Linked DNA regions of Homo sapiens. The protein of the gene in region 1 purifies or fractionates together with the protein of each later gene. This does not show direct contact. Each region holds a gene or a part of one and is shown in the gene's direction. Other genes may lie near its edges.

Region 1 (7,037 bases):
TACCTCTGTGGGATCCTTTGCCCCTTCATGTCCCCCCGAAAACAACCAGAAAACCCCTAACTTGTACTTGCACACTCATGTCAGCTGTCACCTCATACAGGTAGCCTTTAGCCATTCTCTTGTTTGCCTGTGTCACCCCAGCTGGGGGAGACTCCCCCCCACAGCACCCTGTGTTTGCCTTTTTCACCACGCTGTCCATGCTCTATTCTGTTCAAATTTCTTTCTCCCCAACTATGTGATGAGGGCAGGAATTGGCAATTTTATTTCTGTGTCCCTTGCATGATGCCAGGTACATAGTGGGTCTCCAGGCAGTTTCAGCATAGGATAAAAAATAAAACAAAGCCAGGCTATGTGGTTTCCTAAAGCCTTTTTTTGCACTTTCCGTTAGACTCCAGTAAAGAGCTGGAGGAGTTGAGGGCCGCCTTTACTCGTGCCTTGGAGTATCTGAAGCAGGAGGTGGAAGAGCGTAAGTATGCCCCAGCCTGTGGTTTTGCCCAGTTGTATTTCCTTGTCTGTACTATTTCCTGGTTGATGTACCTTTTCAGCCAGCGACTATCTGTCTCCAAGTTCCTTTCTAATTTTACTAATTCTGTTTTTGAAGGTTTCAATGAGAGTGGTGATCCAAGCTGCGTGATTATGCAGAACTGGGCTAGGATTGAGGTAAATGTTTTTGACACATCTAGCACTTTCATCCATCATTGTTTAATAGCATCCTATTAAACTTTAATTAAAATTGAGTCAGAATCCCAGATAATGGCCTAAGCTCTATAAGGATTTATGTTATTACCTAGGTAATGGTCTAGGCTCCACAAGGATTCATGTTATTTACCTAGCTTGACATATATTTGTAAATATGTTGGTGAAAATATTAGCTCCCAGCTAGAAGTTGTGCAGTAAATGTTTAGATGCTAGGTATTCACTCGTTTACTTCTGTCTCTGCCTCTTTGCTTCATTTGTGAGAGCACAGTGAGCGTGTACTGTTTGTCAGCACTGTACTAGGTGCTGTGGGAATAAGACAGATAAAATTCCTTTGCTAGTAAGGCTTCTATCTAATGTAGAAGACAGATGATTTGACAAGTAATTAGAGGATATGATGACTTGAATGTCATTACTGGGTCAGGGACACCAAGGTCAGTAAGACACGGAACCTCCCTTGATCAGCAGGTAGGATTGTAACAATTCTAATCATGTTTTCTCCTCGGAGGGAGCGTCAGATAGAAGAAACTAACATTTGTCAGGTAGTTTTTATATGGGATGCTTATCTTTTAACCATTTTAAAGATGAGAAAACTGAGAATTACAGGTTAAGTAATTTGCCCAAGTCACAGTTTGTAAGTATTAGTAGCAGAGTGTGCATTTAATACTAGATCAGTCTTTTTTTTTTTTTTAACATTGTCTCTCAAACACTTGTAGTTAAGCTTGATAAAAATAAAAAACGTGACTATCTAGTACTGTCGAGTAAGTACCGTGCGCTCCCTCTCTCGGTTCTCAGGAAACATAGGTAGATTAGCTTGTGGCTGCAGAAAGGCTCAAGTGTTTGGGCTGGGTCGTTTACCACTGGAGGGAGGCCTGGGGAATGCCCAGGGACATCTGTAACACTAATAGTTGTGGGGTGCTTTTTATGTGTGTCTGTTGGAAGTGTGTTGTATGATGGGTGTCGACGTCATAAGGTTCAGGTCTCCTAACAGCCTGCTGATGCACTTTAGGCTCGACTGTGCAATAACATGCAGAAAGCTCGGGAACTCTGGGATAGCATCATGACCAGAGGAAATGCCAAGTACGCCAACATGTGGCTAGAGTATTACAACCTGGAAAGGTAACTGATCTCGGGGTGGGGAGGGAGGCAGTGCTTGTCAGCTGTGCACCTGTCTTCACTCCTGGCTGACTCCTACCAGCTTGGACTAGCTCCTTAGAACTGGGCTGTTTTCTTTCATTCTGTCTCTTTCAGTAGTGGGTACATTTTTAATGGGCAGGGCTAGAGAACCAGACATGATATTTTGTGCCTGGAACTCTTATAGCCATGCATTTCTTTTAATTTGTTTTTGTCTTGATTTTTGGGCATGATATTTTATTTGACCTTTTGGAGCTATTTGTTTTTTATATTTGCTTTTATAGAAAAGTAGAAAATACTAAAAAGCTAAGAGAAAAAAAACTCAAATTACTGACCCAGTCATAACCATGACCCATTCTTTGAGACTTTTCTATGTTTAAATTTTTTTGTAATGAAAATGCAATTATAGCATGCATGTGTTACAAGCCTTTAAAACTATTTGAACGAAATAAGATAGGCCTAACAATATTTATAACATGGGGAAAACATAAAGAATGTGACCAACTTTTCAGTCTGTCTTGAACGTTGTTCATTGCATAACATTGCTACATTGCTGGGTTTTCTTTTTTGAAGATTTTTTCCCTATTTAAAAAACACTGTGTGCCCAAATTAGAATATTTACAAAAATATGTGATAGAAAGCGACAGTTTCTTTTCTTTTTTCGGGGGAGGTGGGGAGTCTCACTCTGTTGCCCAGGCTGAAGTGCAGTGGTGCAGTCTCAGCTGCAACCTTGCCTCCTGGGTTCGAGCAATTCTTCTGCCTCAGCCTCTTGAGTAGCTGGGATTACAGGCGTGCACCACCACACCTGGCTAATTTTTGGATTTTTTTTTTTTTTTAGAAGAGGCACAGTTTCACCATGTAGGTCATGCTGACCTCAAGTGATCCTCCTACCTCGGCCTCCCAAAGTGTAGGAATTACAGGCATGAGCCACCATATCCGGCTAAACGTGACAGTTTCTTACAATCCCACCCCAGAGATAACCACTGTTAAAGCTTGTTGAATATCCCCCTAGATCTGCAGTTCACAATTTTTTTGGTCTCAGGATCCATTTTCCACTCTTAAAATTGGAGGATCCCAAAAAACTTTTATGTATGTGAGTTATATCTATTGATATTTATAATTTATAAATTGAGAAATCTAAAAAACATTTTAATTTATTTAAATATAACAAATTATCTAACATTAATATCTTTTTTGAGCAGTGACTGTTTTCCAGACCCCAAAATAATATAGTGAGAAAAGTGGCAGTGTTTTCTATTTTTGCAAATATATTTATTTGCACATTATTCTGACCTAGGAGAAGACAGCTAAATTCTCATGTCTGTTACTGATTCTGTCTGTTGTGATCTGTTGTTTTCATTGAAGAGGTTAGGAAAGAAAGGTATTTTAGAAGCATTTTCAGATAATTGTGGGTATTCTTCTTTCATACATATTATAGCAAAACTTCAGTGTTGCATGTGGAATCTGAAACCATATTGACAGAGTCTGTTACAGTAATACCCATTTGTCTATTTTATCTTTTACTTGATGCCACAATTCTACGACATTATTTGGAAAAATCCCAATTCACTAAATCATGCAGCTCTTCCAATGTTGACATATTTCATCCTATAGTATTAAAAAATCGTATTTGTTCATATCTGTATTGATCTTAGTTGAAAAGTATTTTAAGTAGGAAGCTGTCAGACTTGTGGTGGCAGATACAAGTTTTCCAAAATTCTAATTTTCACTTGAAAGCTTGAATTCTATCACATGCAACAAATAATGTCAGTGGTTTTCCCCAGAGTGGCAGCCTCACTTTGTTAATTTTCAAAAATGTCTGCCAAATACCCAGGTCTGAGTAACTGACCGTGGTTTGTCACTCAAGTTTCCTTTCAAGTAAAAATGGTGTCCTTGAAAAAAATGACTTGATTAGCTTGCAACTCAAACAGTAATATGCTTTTTTTTTTTTTTTTGGCAATAACCATTGTACTTCAGTATGCAGAAGGGCTTTAAGTGTACTTAGTATTTCATCACACAGTGCATTAAAAAGATTTCTACTGCCTTGATTTGTGCTAAGGGCCACCATTACTTGTGCACTGTCTTGAAGATGTCAACACAGTGAAAAAGTCCAGTAATGTCTTGGTATTATTATAAAAGGAGTTTTGACTTTGCAGGGCCCCTGAGAGGCTCTGGGAGATCCTCAGGGGTACGTGGATCTTACTTTGAGAACCAGTGCTCTGAATTTATTCTGAGCATCATAATATGTATATATAATTATGTATATTTAAAATGTTTTAAAAACAAATATGAATACACTGTTGCATAACAGTTATGATTAGCAGAATTGTGTAGCTGTTGTGATTAGCAGTGTACAAAAAGGATCTGTTTGCGACCAGCCTTGCCAACCTGGTGAAAACCTGTCTCTATTAGAAATACAAAAATTAGCTGGGTGTAGTGGTGGGCACCTGTAATCCCAGCTACTCAGGAGGCTGAAGCAGGAGAATTGCCTGAACCTGGGAGACAGAGGTTGGAGTGAGCCGAGATCGTGCTATTGCACTCCCACCTGGGTGACAAGAGCGAGACTCCCTTTCAAAAAAAAAAAAAAGATCTGACTCTGGGTATGAAATTTGACACTACCCTGGATTCATAACTCTCCTGTCAGTAGGACGCCATAGTAAAATTTCCCTGGGGACTGTATCAGGTTACAGAGAGCTGTTGGACTCCCCCGCCATGTGCCGCACATGTGAATGCTGTAAAGGCAGAATGCTGGTTGCAGATCACAATATCAGGTACACTTTCCAGTAGCCCCTACATGGCTGAGGGAGAGAGTGCTTCAGGGAAATACTTCGTAGGTGACTGTAGAGACTCTGGAAGGAGAAAGCATCATGGATAGATCTGAAAGCTAAGGTCTTCTCAGAAGCTAGAGTTACTGAAGAGTGAGTTTCTACCTGGGAGAAGACGGCCTCTCCCTTCGAGTGCCTTCCACTTTGTGTCCTGGTGGCAGCAACTTTTTGTTTTCTGCCTTAGAGCTCATGGTGACACCCAGCACTGCCGGAAGGCTCTGCACCGGGCCGTCCAGTGCACCAGTGACTACCCAGAGCACGTCTGCGAAGTGTTACTCACCATGGAGAGGACAGAAGGTGGGACCCCCAGCTCTCTTCTGGCTTGGAGCCTAACCCATTTGCTGTTTGGTCTCAAGTAGGAGCATCTGGTTACAGTCTGGGGACAGACTGTGTTTATGCTGCCACCTTAGGTGGTGCCCTATGATTAGACTGTCACAAGTGTCCTGAAAATGAGTCCTCCTGCAGCTCTTCTCAAATTCTGCAGCTACAAGGAGGACTCTGTGATGTCACTGTAGCACAGGGTTCTAATTCTCTGTGGGGGGGACTGTGCGTTATACAATGTTTAGGGGCATCCCTGGCTTCTAGCCCTGAAATGCCAGTAGCAGCTTCACCACCACAACCAAACATGACAACCAGAAATGTCTCTTAACATTGCCAAATGTCTCTTGATGGGCAGGATCCCTCCTTTGAGAGTCACTGTGCTCTAGTACAACATCTATCCAACAAAGGAGCTTGGAGAGGCAAATGGCTCAATGTGTCCTTTGCATCCCTTGTTAAATTTCAGAGCCTTCAGTGTTAGCTAGAACCAATAGAAAAATAATGTGAACTTATCTGTGGGTATTGGTCTGGATTTTGGGTATGGACCCCTCAGAACTGGCTTGCAAAGACCACCAAAAAATAAGAAATAAATGCCTCAACATTTGAGTAGCTCTTAAAATTCTTCAGTCTTAATATAAATGTACTTTTGCATTAGAACGTTCGTTTTCATATTCTTTGCCATTTAGAGCCCTTAATAGATCATATTCTGGTTTTCAAGTCTCTCCTGAAAGGAGAGGGACATTTTAAACCCACTTAGAAGGACTATTTGAATTCTGAACTTCAAGCCTACAGGGATTACATTTTCTTATTGTTTGATGGGAGAGATCTCTTCTGGAGGTACAGAGAAATTAAGAAAAATTTATGTGATTGTATCCTTCAAAATCCTAAAGAGTGAAAGTTTTGCTTCTCTTTCTTTCAAGGTTCTTTAGAAGATTGGGATATAGCTGTTCAGAAAACTGAAACCCGATTAGCTCGTGTCAATGAGCAGAGAATGAAGGTAATGACAATGTTTGAAGTCTTTGGCACCTCTGGTAGCTATTTTGGCTCAGTTTGGTATGGATGTTTCTTGTCAAGATGTTTTACATTTTCCTAAGTGTCTTTTACTCAGTATTAATTATAAAATATTTAGATCAATGCTTAAACCTGTCTTGTGTCATTTTTACATTGTTCTAAAACATCAGCCCCAATATTAAGTACTTGTTTCATTTAGTGAGGGAATTTTGGCTCTAAAATTTACGAGAATTGATGAAAAAGAATAAAGAAGAGCCTCACTTAGCCTAGTGAGTGGAACATGAACACCCCAACTTATTTAGGGCTTCAGTTTTATGGATTTTTTTTTTTTTGAGACGGAGTCTCGCTCTGTTGCCCAGGCTGGAGTGCAGTGGCATGATCTCGGCTCACTGCAAGCTCTGCCTCCCGGGTTCACGCCATTCTTCTGCCTCAGCTTCTCGAGTAGCTGGGACTACAGGTGCCCGCTACCACACCTAGCTAATTTTTTGTATTTTTTTAGTAGAGATGGGGTTTCACCATGTTAGCTAGGATGGTCTCGATCTCCTGACCTCGTGATCCACCCATCTCGGCCTCCCAAAGTGCTGGGATTACAGGCGTGAGCCACCGCGCCCGGCCAGTTTTATGGATTTTTTTGCCTTCCTTTTGGTGAGTAATGATTAGGGTGAGGAAATTGCTAATGTAACAGAGACATCAGATCCAGAATTCCAACGAACCTGAATGAGCCCTGGTGTGGAACAGCCGTGAGCCTGTCCACGTTTTTCTCCTGATCTCTGCTTTTCATTAGTAATGAATTTCCACTCCTTCTCCCCTTTCATGACAAATCAGTACAGTGAATGTAATTGCCACATCCAGCGATGCATCATCTTCCCACTTTTCTAGGCTGCAGAGAAGGAAGCAGCCCTTGTGCAGCAAGAAGAAGAAAAGGCTGAACAACGGAAAAGAGCTCGGGCTGAGAAGAAAGCGTTAAAAAAGAAGAAAAAGATCAGAGGCCCAGAGAAGCGCGGAGCAGATGAGGATGATGAGAAAGAGTGGGGCGATGATGAAGAAGGTAAG
Region 2 (7,037 bases), on another chromosome or scaffold:
ATTCTTACCCTTATCAGAGGTGCTGTAGAATAGGTAAGACTCTGGATAAAGAAGAAATTTGGAAGTTTGCTATGGATCTTGGAGTTTTTTACCTTGTGTATCCTGAAATGCTGTTAGAGAATCTCTTGTATTCAGGCTATTTGAGGACAGACTTAGCAAGATTACAGAATATTTTTCAGAGGAATGTATTTTTATTTTAAATCATAATGCATGCTGGAGGCCCCTTTAGCTAATAGAAAATTCTTTATTTATAATTAGTATGTCCAGTGAACAATGTGGAATAATAGCGTTTTGACTGGGATTGGGTTCTCAGATCTCTTTGGAGATGGGAAAATTAAATATCAAAGAAGAATTATTAACTGTACAGCAAGATCCCCACAGGGGAAATCTCAGAGCTGGCATGAGAACCTCGACCTCTAGATTCCAAGTCTTTCTTTTCTGCTATTATAAGTTGGCAGACTCCAACCTCTTCTTATATTGTAGCTAAATTTTATACTAATACGTTGCATAAGTTTTGATTTAAAAATAATGTTTTTTAAAATCTTACTCGTTCTGTCAGTTGCTTAATCTCTCCTCTTCCCTTTCCCTTTAAAATAAATAGCAAATTCAGTTTCAGCTCCCATTTTACTTATAATACTGGGACTTTTCACTCATAAATTAAATTTGATTAAAATTTATTAGCCAAATCAGTGATTTTACTTTGATTTAAAAGAATTATGGAATTTCGAAACAGAAGGAGATCATAGCAGTGATTCTATCCCACTTGCCAAATTTATGTGGTTGATGTGAATCTGTTAAACTAGCTGGGGGGAGGTGAGGTTCCTCTTACATGCTAGAGAAATAAAATATGAAGATAAAAAATAATTGGTGTAAGATTATCATATTTCATACTGCTTTTTCGGCTGTCATATTGTGTATAAAATAGGTTTCTAAGGTAGTGATGTTTTTAATGGTGGTTTAGAGTATAGCATAGGTTATATGACTTTGATTTTGTATTTTATTCATAAATATACAGAAACACTGGTTTGGTATACAAAGTGTCTGGTGTCTGGTATCTGGTGTCTGGTGTCTGGTATCACCTTCTCCCCCATACCCTTAGTAGCCTAACTTCCTCTATATTAACACTTTTTTTCCTTTTTATGAATAAATGAGCCCACTTTCAAAACAGGCACTTAAACTGTACATCTTTACAGTAGTGCAGTTTCCAGCTCTGTTGCAACATTGCCGTAGGCTTAAGAAAGTCTCTTCAGATAGTGGCAAAATAACTTTGGTTGTTTTTGTTTGTTTGTTTAGCTTTTCTACATAGCAAAAAAAAAATCTCAAAAAACACGCAATTCTTGTGTAGTTGATGAGTTGGCTGCCATCTTTTAGCATGAGAACTGTAACCTTCCTTGGAATAAGCAGATTTATAACTTCTTCTCCTACAAGTAATGAAAAATCAGACTGTGTCCATCTGAGGAACACTCTTTTATACTTTATGATCCTGAGTCTTGTAGGCTTTGTAAAACCATAGTGGTATAACCAAAAGAATGACAGATATATAACTTTTCTTTTGCTAAAACCTGAGTAAGAATTTTGAAAATGAAACAGGTTTCAAGTTAAGCAAATACGTTTACTCAGCATGGTCATGTATTCATTATAATAGAAATAGTTTGGGGCTGGATGCAGTGGCTCATGCCTGCAATCCCAACACTTTGGGAGGCCGAGGTGGGTGGATTCTTTGATCCTAGGAGTACGAGACCAGGCTGGGCAACATGGTGAAACCCCATCTCTACAAAAAAACAATACAAAAATTAGCCGGGTGCGGTGGTTCACACCTGTAGTCCCAGCTACTTGGGAGGCTAAATCAAAAGAATCACTTGAGCCCGGGAGGCAGAGGTTGCAGTGAGCCAAGATCAGGCCATTGTACTCCAGCCTGGGCAATGGGAGTGAAACCCTGTGTCAATAATAATAATAATAAATAATAATAGAAATAGCATGGCTATTATGTTGACTATAAAGTTTTCTCCTGTATTATATATTTGCTGTGCATTATTGTGCTATATTGCTTTTTAAAATGTCGTTTATTATATTGCTAGTTTTAATCTGTTTTTCTGGTAATACTGCTTTAATATAGTATACATTATAGTCATTACTATACTTTGTAGTCATTAATTTGACAAAAGTAAAAGTCACTAAACCTTTTCATTCTATACATGGTCATTAAAATATAACTTTATTCTAAGGAAAACATAGTATCTGTTACTTAAAGGAACACACAGACAAGAAAAAATAATTCTTTAAAAAATTTAGCATATGCAGCAGGGGGCACCAGATGAAGGCAAAAATGTACTCTTACATTTTGAATCAGCTACAGCCTGTATCCTCTTCATATATAAGCAGTGTGGTTGGTAGTTGTTTCTCCTTAGTTTTCCTAATGGTTTTAGTTTCTCAGCTCTAAAAGCTGTGTTGAAGAAGAGATTGATAACTCTTCCTCTTTTATTAATTCAAATGAAACTTCTTACAACCAACCAATTTAGTAATTACACAAATTTTTCTTAAACATTTACTATTTTGAGAGTTTCAAAAAGGGGAGTTAGACGCCACATTTAATAATTCTTTGGTTAGAACAAGGTATTAATATTGTGTGTAATACATTTTCTACAAAATATTTTTTCATTAAAGAATAAAAGGAAACCCCTGATGATTTAAAAGCCTAATTTTGTTTTGCTTTATATGTGAACTGAATGAATTTTAAATCTGGAATCCTGTTCCCTATTGCTAATAAATTGTTATGTAGACATTTGTTTCCAAAACGGCTTGTTTTTGATGTTGGTAACATCATTAAAAAGTTTTTTCTTTTAATTTCCTCTTCCCCATCATCCAGTCCAATATCAGATGGAAATGATGCGGAGCCTTCGCCATGTAAACATTGATCATCTTCACGTGGGCTGGTATCAGTCCACATACTATGGCTCATTCGTTACCCGGGCACTCCTGGACTCTCAGTTTAGTTACCAGCATGCCATTGAAGAATCTGTCGTTCTCATTTATGGTTAGTAGGAGGTTTATTATTCTTTTTTCCCTTAATATTATTACTACTATTTTTGCTTTCTGTCCTTTTTGCCTCTAAGAGCAGTCTGGCAGGCCTTCTCAAGTAAATACCAACCCTGTTTCTGCAGCAGCCTCAGCAGCAGCTCAGTCTAGACAGGGTTTCCTTCTTTCTGTTTATTTTTCTTGCTATCAGAGCCCTGATGTGTACATTTTGGAATGCTGGAGTAGCTGCTTCATTTCTATTCCTCCATCTCCCCTCCCTCATTGAAGGGGCTGGTGGAACTAGACCAGATGTCTAACAAACCCCGATTGCTAGAGTGTCTGGCTCTGTACGTGACTGACCAATCATAATACGGTGTGCCAAGTTTTTTTTATACCTCTGACAACAGCGTACAAAACCTGGACTGTTTCTTAGCACAAAGATTTTTTTCTTTTCGGCCTATTTAATGGTGTTTCCTCAAGCTCTCCAGACCAGATGTTCTGTGCTGTATCAGAACTGTAGGCAATTTAACAGCTTTATAGCCTTCCCCCTCCCCAAACACTCACAGTTTGCCATATCTGGCAGACTTGCATATAGTTTCCAGCTGAGAAGTAAATGTAACGTCCTGAGTATCTGTCAGAAAAAATACTAATGAATACGATCAATCTTATGAGCTGCCCCAAAATTGTTTCAGTATGTTAACAATTGGATTACAGTAAAGAACAAGTTGTTAAAGTATACTTATATTGGCTGGAAACATTGCATCATCAGACCTTGATGAATTTTCCACTTGTTTCAATCTATTTTGGTTTTCATTTTATCACCTATTGCTAAAAGTTTCACTGTGTTAAGTTTCAGACAACATGAATGTTAACACAGGTTTTAGGCGAATATTGGCATGCCAGAGCCGTTATCATGCAGCAAGTGCTAAGCTCCCTTACTCATGGAGTGTTTCAGCGGTTAGCTTTGACAAAATTAGTTTCTCCAAAACCAGAAAGACACTTTTGTGATAGCAGTTTGACTTGAATGGTTTTGTTTTTACAATCTGTTTTAACGAAGAAATGTGAACAGTGATTATTAGGATTGATAAATTTTGTGTGCGGGGCTATTCATTTTAAGTTGAATGAGGAGCTACCCAAGTACATGCAGTGAATTTTCATGTTTAATATTTATCAGTGATTTCCTAATTATACAATATGTCTAGAACATATGATACATTTAATTTTCAGCAAGGTTACTAGTTCTTGCTGAGGAATGAATTTGAAAATAACTCTTTTGCATCTTTAGTTTTTGACAGAGGAAATTACTCTATTGTAAGTAGGATAGAGGTATTCCTGCATTTTCAAGTGCTATTTGCAATAGTGCTTTGAGTCTGCTTCAAGTTGTGTTCTGGTTGTTTATTTTGATCTTTATTTTGCAAAGATTGTGCGATATGTAACAGAATGTGCCTAGAACCAATGCCATTCAAGCCTGGCAGTGACAAAATTCTTAGTAATTTATTTCTCTTTCCTTGTTTGAGATCCCATAAAAACTGCCCAAGGATCTCTCTCACTAAAGGCATACAGACTGACTCCTAAACTGATGGAAGTTTGTAAAGAAAAGGATTTTTCCCCTGAAGCGTAAGTGTTTGGGGGCATCTGGTAAAGGGTTGGGTATTTTTCTGTTAAGATTTTTCTTTGCCACATCTCTTGAATCCTTGGTTGTGGTGTGGTAATGCTTTTGCCATGTGGACTGTAGAAGTTTTCTGCATGCCGAGTGCTGCTTGCTCTCTCCCTTTCCATGTTTAAATTATTCTTTAGGGAATATCTCATCTGTTGTTCTCACCAAGGGTGAATTCAGTTAGAATGGGAATTAATTAGCTACTGGATTCGAAGAAATAAATGATTGAATAAAGGGAGGTGGAAAGAGTGATCAGTGGCTGTCAGATTGTAAGCTCTGTGTCAGACTGGTTGTGAGCTGTGTGTCTTATTTTCCGAACCCTTGTTTAATGAGGGGGTGGGAAAGATATAAACATTTTAAGAATTTGGTAAAGAATGTGGCTTATTGGAAATTTTATGGGTGACAGTTATGCAGAGAATTAACTGATGGAGCTGTTTTGGGATCCTATTTAATGGCATTGTAATATTTACTTTAAATAAATTAAATACTTAGAATTCTTCCATTTTCTGTTAATTATAGAAATTTTTAGTTCTTATTGAATCAAAATTAATGGTTTTGACTTCATGTAGGACGGTTCTTCTCTAGTTTCCCATTTGGCTCCTAAAAAGTTAAGGTGCAGAGAATTTTAAAAGAAAAGCTAACTCATGAACAATTCCTGGATGTGGTGGTTATAACTAATCTATGAGAAACTGTGTTCTTGGCATGTTCTAACTATTGTATCTGGAGTCTCCTTGTGTTCTGCTACTTGTTAAACTCTAATTCAAGAGGCTTTTTAAATGAACTTTTCAAGAAATAGAGTATTTCTCATTTCTAGCTATTTTAAATTAAGTTGTAGGTGTAGGTTGTGTAGCATAACTTACTGTGACATTTACATTTTAGTATCAGTGAAATTTTAAAGATACCTGATAACAAAGAATGAGTAGTTTCTTCTGCCAAGAATCTCATTTTCTGGGCTTTAGCTCAAATTCGCATCATTTTCAAAGTTACTCAAATCACTCAACTTATGCTTGACTCTGTAAAACTCCAGTTTCTCTACTTTTTTTTTTTTTAAGAGTGCTAATGAAACAAAGATCTTGGATAGGGCCTGTAATTAGGTAAATTTTATGAAGTAGTCAGTTTAGCACTTACTTTTGACCATCAGACTAAAGTATTTTTAACATGCTTCACAGATTGAAAAAAGCAAATATCACCTTTGAGTACATGTTTGAAGAAGTGCCGATTGTAATTAAAAATTCACATCTGATCAATGTCCTAATGTGGGAACTTGAAAAGAAGTCAGCTGTTGCAGATAAACATGAATTGCTCAGCCTTGCCAGCAGGTAAGTGGCCCTGCCTAATGAAAAGCCCATGTTTTAGAACTTTTTGCAAAAGATTCTTTCACATAAACTTTACCTGTGAAACAAGAAAACAGTTACTTAAGAACGTTTATAGGTTCTTAAAACATGTATAACATGGAGTAATAGTCTGGCCCTGTTAGGATGTCAGGGAAAAACGCCAAACTGATAACATGAAACAACACATTATTTGAATACTAATTGCTCATATTAGAAGAACCCTCTGCTGCCTTCTTTGCTGTATCATTTGTGCTTTGATAAGGTCAGTGCCCAAGAGGGAGGGCTTTTTTATATGGCTCAGCTTTATTTCTTGTACACGATCCTAAGAGGCTTAGGGTATTAGGTCTGGATATTTAATAATGCTCAGGAAAAGAACAGAAATGCTTTTTTCTTTTACTGGTTGTACTTACCCTTGTTCAGATGCAGACTCTTGCAGTTGTAAAATTACAGTTGTTTGAGTTTTCAACTAAAATTTGAATTTTCTGAACCTGACATTGGCTTCACCTATTTTAGTTGGTGATAACGATTTCCTCCACCGTGACTGCCTTAGCTATCTAGTTGCTGAGATAATGTTTATTATATTTGTAAAATGCAGATTGAGGTTTCCAAAAGGAAGTATTGTTCCCTTTGTTAAATTAATGTTTATTTCCCCCTCATCTATTACTCTTAACAGAAATGTGAATAGAGCCACATGTATAGCTCCTCTTAAATGCCCTTTGAGCGTTATGTTAGTGATTATTTTGTCTGTGGTGGAAGGAGGCTAGCAGCAGACTTGTGGAATGAAATTAAATGGTCAGAGTAGGTAAAGAATCAATATATGCTTGTTGGCTGAAAGAAACAAGGTGTGTTTTCTTAAGCAACCAGTTTGGAGCAGACTAAATTATTTATCAGATTTCTAGTTATCTTAGATAGAGACTTGTTAAAAAAAAAAAAGTGTACAGACTTTGTACTTCCTCGATATAAGGCAAGTGGGATGAACCCAGAAGGGCCAGAGACATCAATGTTCTTCTCTATGCTCTGGCACGGGTAGG
Region 3 (3,402 bases), on another chromosome or scaffold:
ACCTACTTGGCACTATTTTCTACTTGAATCATGAAAATGAAAAAAATATACTAAAGTCTTTGTACTCTCTTAGCATTTTCTGTATTCTAAACAATATATTTATACTTTCAGAATAGTATTAAGAATTAGTTTAAGTAACTCCAGCTAAGTTTTAAAAGGAAAAAGAAGACTGCACTGATTCCCTGAGGAGAAATTTATTTGCAGTTACTTAGATGATGTAAAAAGGTAAGGATTTACGGTTGTAACTTGGTGAAAGCACTTTTGTGATCTGTTATATGTTGTGGTTTTAAGGATGGCGTATATTACATTAATCTATAATCACCACATTGTTTTAAATTGTTTATTTTTTTTTTAAAGAAGTCTGTCTTCAGAGTACAACCAATGTGATTAATTGTGCCTTTAACAAAGTCATTCAATGTCTAAACAAATTCAGTATCTGAAACATCTTCATGAGGAAAACTGAAGGAAAGGAATTTAAAAACACAGACCAGGAAACAATCACAAAATATAGGTTTAATTACTACTTTTAAACTTAAAAAAAAATAAAAACCAAGAAAACAAACATAGGTACTCCAGTAAGACTTGCTACTCTGAATAATGTAACATTTTTTCTAAGTTCTATAAATATATACTGGAAGTTTTAGAACACATACAGACGCTTAGGAAAAGAAAGGCTAGTTCCTTGGAAATGACGATCCAGGATGATACAATCACTTGATGACAGAAGGTAAGCCTTTCTTACAATTAGATTTTAGCAGATAATTTTACCACTAATATAAATGGGTGATGTGTGGATCACAAGTTCTAGAAGGCGAATAAAAATACTGACTCCAGGTAATTTCTGGATACTACAAAAATGAAGTTTGCTTGTTTTTTTTAGAACCAAAAATACTATCTTGTAAGGTACAAAGAAAGCTTGATATTAAGTATGAAAACATAAGCATAACATTTGTAACTAATCACACCCATGAAAGACGACTAGATGACACCTGAAACATTTTTCAAAATACTGTAACACAGATGAGTAATATTAGTATAAATTTTTTATGTACATTAAGATCTGTTTCAGTTTGCTGGTGTGACCAAACCTTAGAAGGTAATCCCAAGGGATAAAGCAGAACATAAGAGCAGATATTTAGATATTAGTACAGGCTCAATTTGATGCAATCATAAACCTTCAAGATTTCTAGTCACTGAAACCCCATTGTAGGTAGTGTTCTGGAGTCTGCTATAAGTAAATCTTTAATGACTAGATGTTTTCCTTACCATCTACACTGAATGGAAATACCATGAATATAGACACATTTTAAGTAGAAGACTGACGTTCTAAATCATGCTGTTTGATTTTATAAAAAAATCATAATAGACCCTCTCACCTTTAAAAGTTGTAGAGGAGCTTTATAATAAATTCTTAAATATACTAATTTCTGTGATGTCTAGCAATTGAATAATTTAAACTTGAAAGAACTAAAATACTAATAACCATCTGCTTTATATTACACAAGGAAATATACACGTATGTACATAAAAAGTGAACTCCCTTCACAAATAAGTTCACAAAGGACTATGTGTAATGTGACTGGACATTCAACAACTAGACTAGCCGGTTGAAATCACATTTTCAGTCCTCTGTAATTGTGAAATTTTTTCTAATGCCTTGCAAAAACTACAGATAACTGATTAAGTTCATGTAGGTTCCTTATTGAAGATAAATTGTGGTATAAATTCTATACTCAAGTTACTGAACATGAGAGTTAGGTTTTTCCAAGTGATCTAACTTTTCCCTCTATAATCTATAAACCCCAAAATAACAATTTCTGTCAGAGAGAATCTGTAACAGAAGTGTTCTTGTGTGCTGAACAAAAAACTTCTAAATTGTTTACAATTCACTTACTATTTAACCCAAACAAGTTTAACAAGAATAAGTTTATACTGTTAGCCCCCAATGGTCATATATGATTAATAAACATTTTTTGTAAACTCAACTATATTCACACATCAAGAGTTGAGCCAGTGAGCTCAATCTTTAAAAAACTACACTTGTCTAAAGAAAGTCTTTTAGTGCTCACTTCGGCAGCACATATACTAAAATTAGAACAATACAGGGAAAATTAGCATGGCCCCTGTGCAAGGATGACACAAATTCATGAAGCGTTTCCATGTTTAAAATAATTTGAAAAGAAAGTATTTTAAACAAATCCAAGTAAAAATAAAATATCTACAAGTGTTTTCAAATCTAAGAAATGAAACATGTAAAGATTAAGAATTTACTGAATCTTAACAGAGTATTTCCCTTTGTGATATTGACAGAAGTTTCTCATAAAATGTATAAAACAGCATAAATGTTTGGTAGATTCACTAATAGTAGTCATACTTTTTTTTTTTTACTTAGTATTAGCATTTGTTGAAAAAATAAATGGCCAAAGTGCTTTAATTTTCATTTAGAATGAAATAATCTGGCTTACCTTTGACTAATTAAAGAAAATATAGGGTAATACAATTGTTCAAAATCTAACACAAATAGGAGCGTTTACTATTTTTGTCTGCTTTAAGATTTTAACTTGATCGAAAATACCAACATCCCCAAACAAAATTTACTGACCTGACATCAGCTTACTATAGACTGAATACACTTTCAACATCAGTCCTTAGCTACCTCAAATAATGACACAAAGTCTTAGTTTCTTTTGCATAAGGATCAAGATCAAGCTATTTTTAAAACAATTTAAATGGTCTCAAAACATTCTCCAACTTAAGTGCAAATTTGAGTACACATAATATTTCCAAAGAGTAGAACTGTTTTTAGATTATCTTTGGATTCTAATAACCATTTTGTCCATTTTTAAATAAATTACAAAAAATAACAGTTCAGTGTTTTTTTTCTTCAAATTTTCCTAGGCCTTTGTTATGGCAACACAATATATACTTAACAGGCCAGCTTGCAACCAGTACTCAGTACAAATCAAAGGATGATTGAAGCCTCCAATATGATTGAAGCCCTTGTAACCACAGCTCCCCCAAAGGCAGTTTACCCCTGCCATATAGGTCTAACACTGGGGGCAGTTTTACTCCTGCCATATAGGTCTAACATTGTGGGGTGCACCTCCAAACCTACCCAAAAATGGACATCAAGGGCATAAGCCGGCAGGCAGGAAGATCTGTTGATTGGAGAATCACTCCATGAGTTACAGAAGTAGATGAAAGCTGTGGGGGAATATAAATAAGACTGTAGAATTAGGGAGGTGGCAAGATTTAAGGAGATGCCTTAGGAAGGAGCCTCATACTTCTGAAATATAGATGTTAACTGGGTTGGGATAAAAGTAAAATCTCCAGCTTAATTTATCTATCTGATCAGGACCAGAAGTCCAAATTAAACCATGTCTCCAAAGTATAGTTGTGATT
Region 4 (7,945 bases), on another chromosome or scaffold:
TCCACTGTTTCCTGTATGCTATAGCTCACTAGTTCTAAAGTGTCTATGGATCAACAACAGGACCACCTGAGAATTTAATAGAAATGCAATTTCTTAGGCCCTACCCTATAATCACCCACTGAATCAGAAATCTTGAATGTGGAGTCCAACAATTTGCTTTAACAAGCCCTCCAGTAATTCTGATGCACATGACAGTTTAAAACACTGTCATCAATTATTTTTAAACTTACTCTCTTGCTGTGGTTAGAAGAACATCTTCCAGTAGTTTTGCAAAGGGTACGGCAAAGGTAAATTTTGAGAACTTTCATTTCTGAAAATGTTCCTTATCAAAATTATATTCTTTATAAAAATGACAAAGCAAAGGGCATATAATTGTGGGAAGCTACACATATACTCTTAATCGATAGTTTAACTTGGTAAAGAAGTCTAAAGTTAGAATTGTCTTTCAACATTTTAAGGTATTGCTCCAGTGTCTCCTAGCTTGTAAAATTTCACAGTGTGCCTTAATGTGAATCTGTTCTCATCCCTTGTGCTGAGTTTTTAGTGGACTCTTTCAAAATGAAAACTCACATTTTCAGTTCTGGGAAATGTCCTTGAAGAATCTGGTTACTTCCTTGTTTGGTTTGTTTTTCCTGGACTATCTGGAACTCCTATTATTTGGAAGTTGAACCATCTGGATTTGTCCTTTATCTTCTTTCTCCAGTTATCTACTATTTTAGTTTTCTGCTCTATTCTCTGGATGATTTCTTTCAACTTTATTTTCCAACACTTCTATTAAGATTTTCATTTCTATTACCATCTCCATTTGCAAGAATTCCTGATCATCTAAATACTTTGCACCTTGTTCCTGTATCATTTGTACCATATCTTCTCTCATCTAAGGATACTAATGATAATTTAGGGGGATGTGTTTATCTTACATAGTCTATCCAAGTTGCTATTTTTATTTCTTTCATGTTAGAAGTTTCTTTCATCCTTTGTTCTGTTCATATTTAAGTGTGGGACACTAATAAAGGTAACAATATAGGCAATAACTGTTTGACTTTGGACTTCACTGTAGGGTCATCTGGCCAGACTATTTAGTTGAGAAACCCACAATGTCAGTGTCTTTCAGTCTTTCCTCTTGGCTCTATCAGATTCCCTAGAGAATAATCTTTCAAACTCCAACCTGAGTTGGAGTTCCAACCCCACGATCAGCTGTTGGAAGTGAAGAAGCAAGGCTGGGAGTCTCGACACTCAGTATGTAAGCATTTAGTTTACATTCAGTCACAGCATTCAGCATGTAAACAATCAGTTTACCCCTTCCTTCAGGTACAAAGACCTGCCCCAATTATTCTTGGAAATCTTCTATTTTACTCTTTCTAATGAAGAAATCTCTACTCTCCTCTTCTGGTAGGGAAGGAGTGTTTGCCCAGTTACCCACAGTGGAGTAGGGGATCTGGGGCTTTTGTTTCTTCAACAGATTTTCAACTGAAAGTTTTTTTTAGCCCTACCTGAAGTTCTGCAAGTACCTGTGCCTATTCCTGAGCCTTTTGGGGGATTCTTGCAATAAACTGGGTTGCGAGCTTAAGATTAAACTTCTCTGAATCTATTAAATCAGTTACCTTCACCCATCCCTTCTCTAGTTTCCAAATTGTTACTATAATCAAGTACAGGGACCCACCCCTCCCTATCAGTTATTAATACGAACCCTTTATATTTTCAATGGGAGTTTCTTTTAAAAAATTCCTTTACTGTCACTTTAGTGAGGTTGGGTAGAAAGTGATGGCAGATCCATCACAGGAATTTGCTATCCTTACCTTGATGCTCCCTTCAATCTTTAAATAATCTGAGAAGCATGGATGGCAACCCCCTTTTACAGATGAGGGAAACGGTTTGGGTTAATCAACTGCCCAAAATCAGCTAACTGGCAAGTGGTATTCTGAGCTGGGTTTCTGAGCCAGGATTTGATACCAGGTTTTCTAATCTCAAAGCCTCTCCAATTTTTCCACATGCTTATAACTATATTCCATAACACATAATTTTACGGTTACTTGTGTTTTTTAATATCCCACCTCCATGTAGTCTCTCAAACTGAAGCAAAAGTCAGGTGCTTTATATTTCTTTTGTATCTCTTGAAGCAATTAAAATGGTGTTGAACACATACATATCCCTTTCCTATAACCTTTTGTACTTTATCATAATTCAATAACCTGTACTTTATCAATAATAACACTGTACTTTATCATAATTCTTATCACCTGTACTGCAATGGCATGTTTACTTTTCTATTTATCTCACACTCATCTGGTAAGCTCTAGAGGGAAAAGACCATGTCTACTTTATATTCACAGTGTCTGCACACAATAAGTACTCAATACAAAGTAAATAATATTGTCAAGGAGGACTGGAGACAAAAATGTACTCAGTAAATATTTGCTGTATGAACAATTCAAAAAATTAAAGCTGAACTTTATTAAAATTCCATATATCAGTGAACAGCTTTGGGTATCAAACTGCCATCTCCTGTATAGCAATTTTAATAAAGTCAATGGTGCAAATCAGATAGAAAATACTACATATTTAGACTTGAGTTCTGAAAGTTTTGTTATAATTACAATGTCAAGGGATCATCTCATATTAAATAATGTCTGAAAGACAACTTAAATTCATGACCCATATTCCTCTGCTTTTCATTCTGGAGGGAAAATTTCAAAGTCTTCATTTGTAAAATTTTAAAATGTTTTAAAAATGTCAAATAGTTTCCACTTATTCTGATTAGAGATGTCAGTTCATGCTTATTTAATCTCTAAAAATTCTGGACCATTAACCGTTCATATTTGGCAACACAGTTAAAACAGTGCACCCTAAGACTTCTACTGCGGCTTTATATATCACAAACTAAAACCTTTTTTAAAAATCAAAACTGTTATGCTCTTTAAAGGAAAAAAGCAACAATAAAATCTTCCTTATCTACTTTAACACTATACAATTTTTAGCTACACGACTTAATTGTTTTTACTGGGGAGACGGTTCATGAGAATTTTACATTAAGACAAATCTAATGCAAGACAGGCCTTATTATTTACTACCAAGGCATGAACCTGAGGTGGCTCTCTAAGCCTCAATTTTCTCACTTATATAATGGGGGTAAAATAGTAGCAATCTCATAGGGTTTTGGTGGGAGGAGACAATGCATGTAAAGTGCTTACACAGTGAAAGCTCAATAACTGCTTGCTACTAAATGCACCTAGCAATAAAATCTTGTATAAGGCTTGCCATGTACAAGCGCTACTCTAAGACCTTTATACATACTGATTTTTTCAATCCCCACAACTATGACAGAGATAGATATTACTATTATCTTCATTGTACAGGTGAGAAGCTGAAGCGGAAAGTTTCACAACTTGCCAAAGGTTAGGCAGTTACGAAGAGAGTAGTTAGATTTGAATTGCAATCAGTCTGGCGGTAGAGTCCTTACCCTTAACCATTGCACTATATTCCATCTGCTGAATTGATAAGCTTTGTTAGGAAAGAAGAAAAGAGAGGCCTGGGCAGTCTTGGTAATGTCGAATGGTTTGAGATGTTAAGGAGCACCCGAATATCTCAGAATAGAGCTAACCCCGCTCTCCCCCGCCCCGACCCCATTTAAGATGCATTGATAAGCCTTTAATGAAACTCAAAGTTTACCTTAGCAGGTTTAATATTTGATCTCATCTTCTGAAAGTTCTTACTATCAGTCTTATACACAGCGAGGCGGACTAATTAAGAGGCAAGGGTGATAGGAAACTGGACACACGTCCTCAGCAGGCACAGGAGCAGCACCATATGGCTGACTCACTGGAGGTTTTTAAAAAAGAGAAAGAATATCTTCCGATCAGTACTAAGATGTGGCCTTGCCCATTTGGGAACAGGATTCGCAGACCAAGAAAAGGGTGGCGGGCGTCCCCATGAGCGGGACGTGGGAAGCGCCTCACTTCTGACCTCACGGAGCCTGACCTCGTCCCCCGCGCCTGCCTCCGACCGGCGACGCAGGTTACCTGTAGGGATTCGAATCCACCACCTCTGAGCTCATCTTCTCGATGCGGACCCGGCCGCCCCCTCCGTCGCCGCTCCTCGGGACCTGCAGACTCCTCTCCTGGGCAAGTTCCCGCTCCAGCTCCTGGACCCGCTGCTGCAGGCGCTCCACAGACTCCGCCATGGCTGGGACTCCGGCCGCCAACGCTCCCAGCCCGGGCCTTCGCCGCCGCCTTCGCCCCACGTTGCTCGGCTGGGCCCGCGAGGGGTACGTGGGGAGGCACCTCGCCGCTGCCTTCCTAGCCCAGAGCCCTGGGGACGTGCACCCAGCGCCTCACAGACAGACACGTCTCCGAGACTCCCACAGGCCTTCCTCGGAGCCGCTTCCGGTGCGTCGCAGACATCGCTCCCCCTCATCAAAAACCTGGCTCTTTCGGCTTCCTTCCTCGCTGGGCCGGCTAAACCCGGCCGCAGCAGCACCGGGGTGATAAGTGTCCAGGGCAGGAGGCCAGCGATGTTGCCTTGCTAACCGGGTATCTAAGAGAAACAGGGTCTTTTTATTCTTAGGCTCGACAGTCTGACGGCCCTTTTTCTGAACGGGACCCTGCAGGTCTTCCGCCTGCTGTTGCATTAAATTTGGGGGTGGAAGAGGCTTCTGCGTTGTTCCTTACCCGCAACGATGACCATGGCTTTGCCTTCTTTAAAATTGAGGCCTCCAACTCTGACGCTGACTGGAGAATTGAAACCCGAACACACATTGGGCTCTTTTGGCACTTGACTAGAGCTAAAACCTCGGGATTCAGCGGGCAAGCGTTGCTCAGCAACGGCGCGTAGGCTGTGTGCGGTTGGCTGGAGCCAGACCCCACCCCGGCCTCGGCCCATGCTCTAGAGGGGACGTTGCCCCAATCCTGAAGGACTTCGGCACTCGAGACCTGTGGATGCCGCGTTGCTGTGGCCTGCGGGGGTGATCATGAAGCCAGGTGCTACTGGCGAGTCCGATTTGGCCGAAGTGCTGCCCCAGCACAAGTTCGACAGCAAGTCCCTGGAGGCCTACCTAAACCAGCACTTGTCTGGCTTTGGGGCCGAACGTGAGGCTACGCTGACCATTGCCCAGTACAGGTATGGATGTCAGCCTTTGCCTCCAGCGGAAAAAAATTTGTACATTGAGTTTTCCTTCCTTTGGCCCTGGGTGGTTTCCTAAGTTTCTCCCACCCTGATTGCTTTTCCTGCAGTCAGTGGACGCACCCTACAGGCATGAGCTGCTATTGCCGGCCCTCCGAATTCGATGCTGGGGGCTTCCCAATTGGAGGGCGGTAATGGAAGCGCAATAACGTTCACCATTCTACTATCCAAAGGAATCTTTGTTAAAGGATGGATTTATGTCCCTTGAGGATTCACCAAGGCAATTAAGGCTACAAATTCTGAGAAATAGATGCCTTCTTTTGTGATACAGCCATTAGATCTTTTTCTGAGAAGCTGGTGTAATTCCGTTTGATTGGCCGTATTCCGGGAGGCTGAGTTAATGACACCAGATGGAGGATCCGAATTCGAGTACTAGCTTTTCCACTTAGGAGGTCACAGCACCACTTTGGGCCTCAGGTTTTTTGAAGTGAGGTAATGGAACTGAGTGAGAGGATCCTGAGAGTAGCGTTCCCCACCGGGAATCTGGCTTTAGTCTGATGTTTTACAATAGATAATACATTCTTAAAACTTTATTCTAAAAATAACATTGTTACTAATACAGGGCTACAGAAAGAGTCCTATCATTCAGAAAACTGGATCTGTCACTTGCTGTCTGGGAGTTTAAATATGTTACATAAACACTCTGAGAACTAGTTTCCTAAGTTGTAATACCTATTTTGATTAGTCTTATTAATGAAATGAAATACCGTAATATAGGTGAAAGGGCGTAAAAATTGCAACAACATAGTGTGCTAGTGGTATTTTATCACTAGCATTTATATTCTTTGACTACTGATTTTGGTGAAAATGAAAATAATAATAAATGAGATGGATCAGGGAACATTTTAGGGTGTAGAATTTAAAGGTCCCATGTCCCAATAGATATTGGAAGATGAAGGGAAAGGTGGAATAAAGAATAGCTGAGATTTCTAGGCTAGAAGCCTTGTGTTGTAACAAACTGAAACAGATCAAAGTTCAAATTTCAACTATTTCAATTGCTGTGGAATTTGGACAAGTTACCCTTTGAACATCTAGTCCTGCTTTGGCAAAAAGGAGATAGTAACGTTCATATTGTAGGAGTGTTGAAGAGGTACATAACTGAAAGATACTTAATTCTGAACCAAGCTGAATGTTAAACCATAACCGTGTTCAAAAAATGAAATTAGTTGTAAATTAGTTGTGGTATAAAAATTGCTTCCAGAAATGTTGTATAAGCTTGGTTTAATAAATATATATGGAACTCTGGATCCCACAGAGAACACACATTCATTTCTAGGACACATGAAAAAGTTTATAAAAATTGAAAACACATAGGCCATGAAGGAAGTCTCAGAAACTCAAAAGAATCAATCTTTATATTTTGAAAATGTGTGTTTTGGCCAGGTGCAGTGACTCACACTTGTAATCCCAGCACTTTGGGAGGCCGAGGCACGTGGATCACTTGAGGTCAGGAGTTCAAGACCAGCCTGGCCAACATGGTGAAACCCCCATCTCTACTAAAGATACAAAAATTAGCCGGGCGTGGTGGCACGTGCCTGTAGTCCCAGCTACTTGGGATGCTGAGGCAGGAGAATCGCTTGAACCAGGAGAGGGAGGTTGCAGTGAGCCAAGATTGCACCACCATGCTCCAGCCTAGGTGACAGAGTGAGACTCAAAAAAAAAAAAAAAAAAAAGGAATATGTGTTTTTTTAATACCAAAAGTTTAACAGAAGATAGCTAACAAATACATGTTTATAAATTAAGTGATTCATGGATTAAAGAGCCAATAATCTACATAGACAGTAAAAGACTATCAAAGTTCAGTGTACAGAAATCAACTGCATTTCTCTACTTTAGCAACAGTTAAAATGTAATTTTCAAAAACTTACAGGAGCATCAAAAATATAAATTACCTAAGTAAAAGATGTGCAATACCTTTGTAGAGAAATGATAAAACTTTTATTAGGACCTTAAAAAGAATTTTAAAAATTGAGAGATGCCATGTTGTTGAATAGGAATATTCAATATTGCAAACTTTTTTCTTCCAGTTGATCTATTGATTCAAAGCAATGACAATCAAAATCCTAATTTTTTTCTCTAATTTGAAAAAGTGCTCCTAAATTTTATGTGTAAGAGCGAAGGGCTAAGGATAGCAGAAACATTTTTAAAGAACCACAAGGTGGGAAATTTGAGTTAAGATGGTATGATATTAGCACAGAGATAGACAGACCAATAAAATAGAACAGAGAGTTCACAGAAAGACCCACATATTTATAGAAGTTTGATAAGTGACAATGTTGGCACTGAGAGTCAGTGGGGGGAAAAGAAGAACTTTTCAAGAAGTTATACTGGAATAATTGTTATCTGTATGAAGAAATAGAAATTAGACTCTTTATCTCACACAGTTCCAGGTAGATAAAAGAACTGAATGTTAAACTATAAATGTTTGGAAGATGTGTAAGTTATATTTTTGACTTTAGAGAAGAAAATATTTTAAAGACAACAGCAGAAACCACAAAGGAAATGACTGATAAATTTTCATTAAAAGACTTAAAGTGAAAAGACAGAAGAAAATATTTTCAGTGCATATAATGGTTAAAATATTCAGAATATAACTATAATAGCTCACCAGAAAAATGGGCGAAAACTTGATGATGCTCAACTTTATTATACTGTAGTAATAAGGGAAATGCAAATTAAAAAAAAAAAAACAACACAATGAGAAACCATTTCACACCACCAAATTGACTTTTAAAAAATCTGACAATAGACTGGGTGCAGTGGCTCA

Evidence for each region.
Region 2: the proteins of SART3 (region 1) and EIF3H purify together in Homo sapiens (affinity purification with mass spectrometry; 2 studies listed by BioGRID, with this or other methods). This does not show direct contact.
Region 3: the proteins of SART3 (region 1) and NSA2 purify together in Homo sapiens (affinity purification with mass spectrometry; 2 studies listed by BioGRID and IntAct, with this or other methods). This does not show direct contact.
Region 4: the proteins of SART3 (region 1) and ACAD11 purify together in Homo sapiens (affinity purification with mass spectrometry; 2 studies listed by BioGRID and IntAct, with this or other methods). This does not show direct contact.

Annotation. Positions count from the first base shown.
Region 1 is NC_000012.12:108,530,137-108,537,173, reverse strand, and holds part of SART3 (spliceosome associated factor 3, U4/U6 recycling protein), read left to right. Parts: intron 1-388; coding exon 389-466; intron 467-601; coding exon 602-660; intron 661-1,705; coding exon 1,706-1,815; intron 1,816-4,839; coding exon 4,840-4,952; intron 4,953-5,893; coding exon 5,894-5,970; intron 5,971-6,863; coding exon 6,864-7,032; intron 7,033-7,037. UniProt on the Homo sapiens protein: U6 snRNP-binding protein that functions as a recycling factor of the splicing machinery. Promotes the initial reassembly of U4 and U6 snRNPs following their ejection from the spliceosome during its maturation.
Region 2 is NC_000008.11:116,654,810-116,661,846, reverse strand, and holds part of EIF3H (eukaryotic translation initiation factor 3 subunit H), read left to right. Parts: intron 1-2,866; coding exon 2,867-3,034; intron 3,035-4,532; coding exon 4,533-4,632; intron 4,633-5,841; coding exon 5,842-5,991; intron 5,992-7,037.
Region 3 is NC_000005.10:74,777,248-74,780,649, forward strand, and holds the end of NSA2 (ribosome biogenesis protein NSA2 homolog), read left to right. Parts: 3' UTR 1-2,866; downstream 2,867-3,402. UniProt on the Homo sapiens protein: Involved in the biogenesis of the 60S ribosomal subunit. May play a part in the quality control of pre-60S particles.
Region 4 is NC_000003.12:132,656,773-132,664,717, reverse strand, and holds the start of ACAD11 (acyl-CoA dehydrogenase family member 11), read left to right. Parts: upstream 1-4,908; 5' UTR 4,909-4,966; coding exon 4,967-5,115; exon of another isoform or gene 5,116-5,221; intron 5,222-7,945. Other genes in the region: UBA5 (ubiquitin-like modifier-activating enzyme 5), read right to left, coding at 4,020-4,180. UniProt on the Homo sapiens protein: Acyl-CoA dehydrogenase, that exhibits maximal activity towards saturated C22-CoA.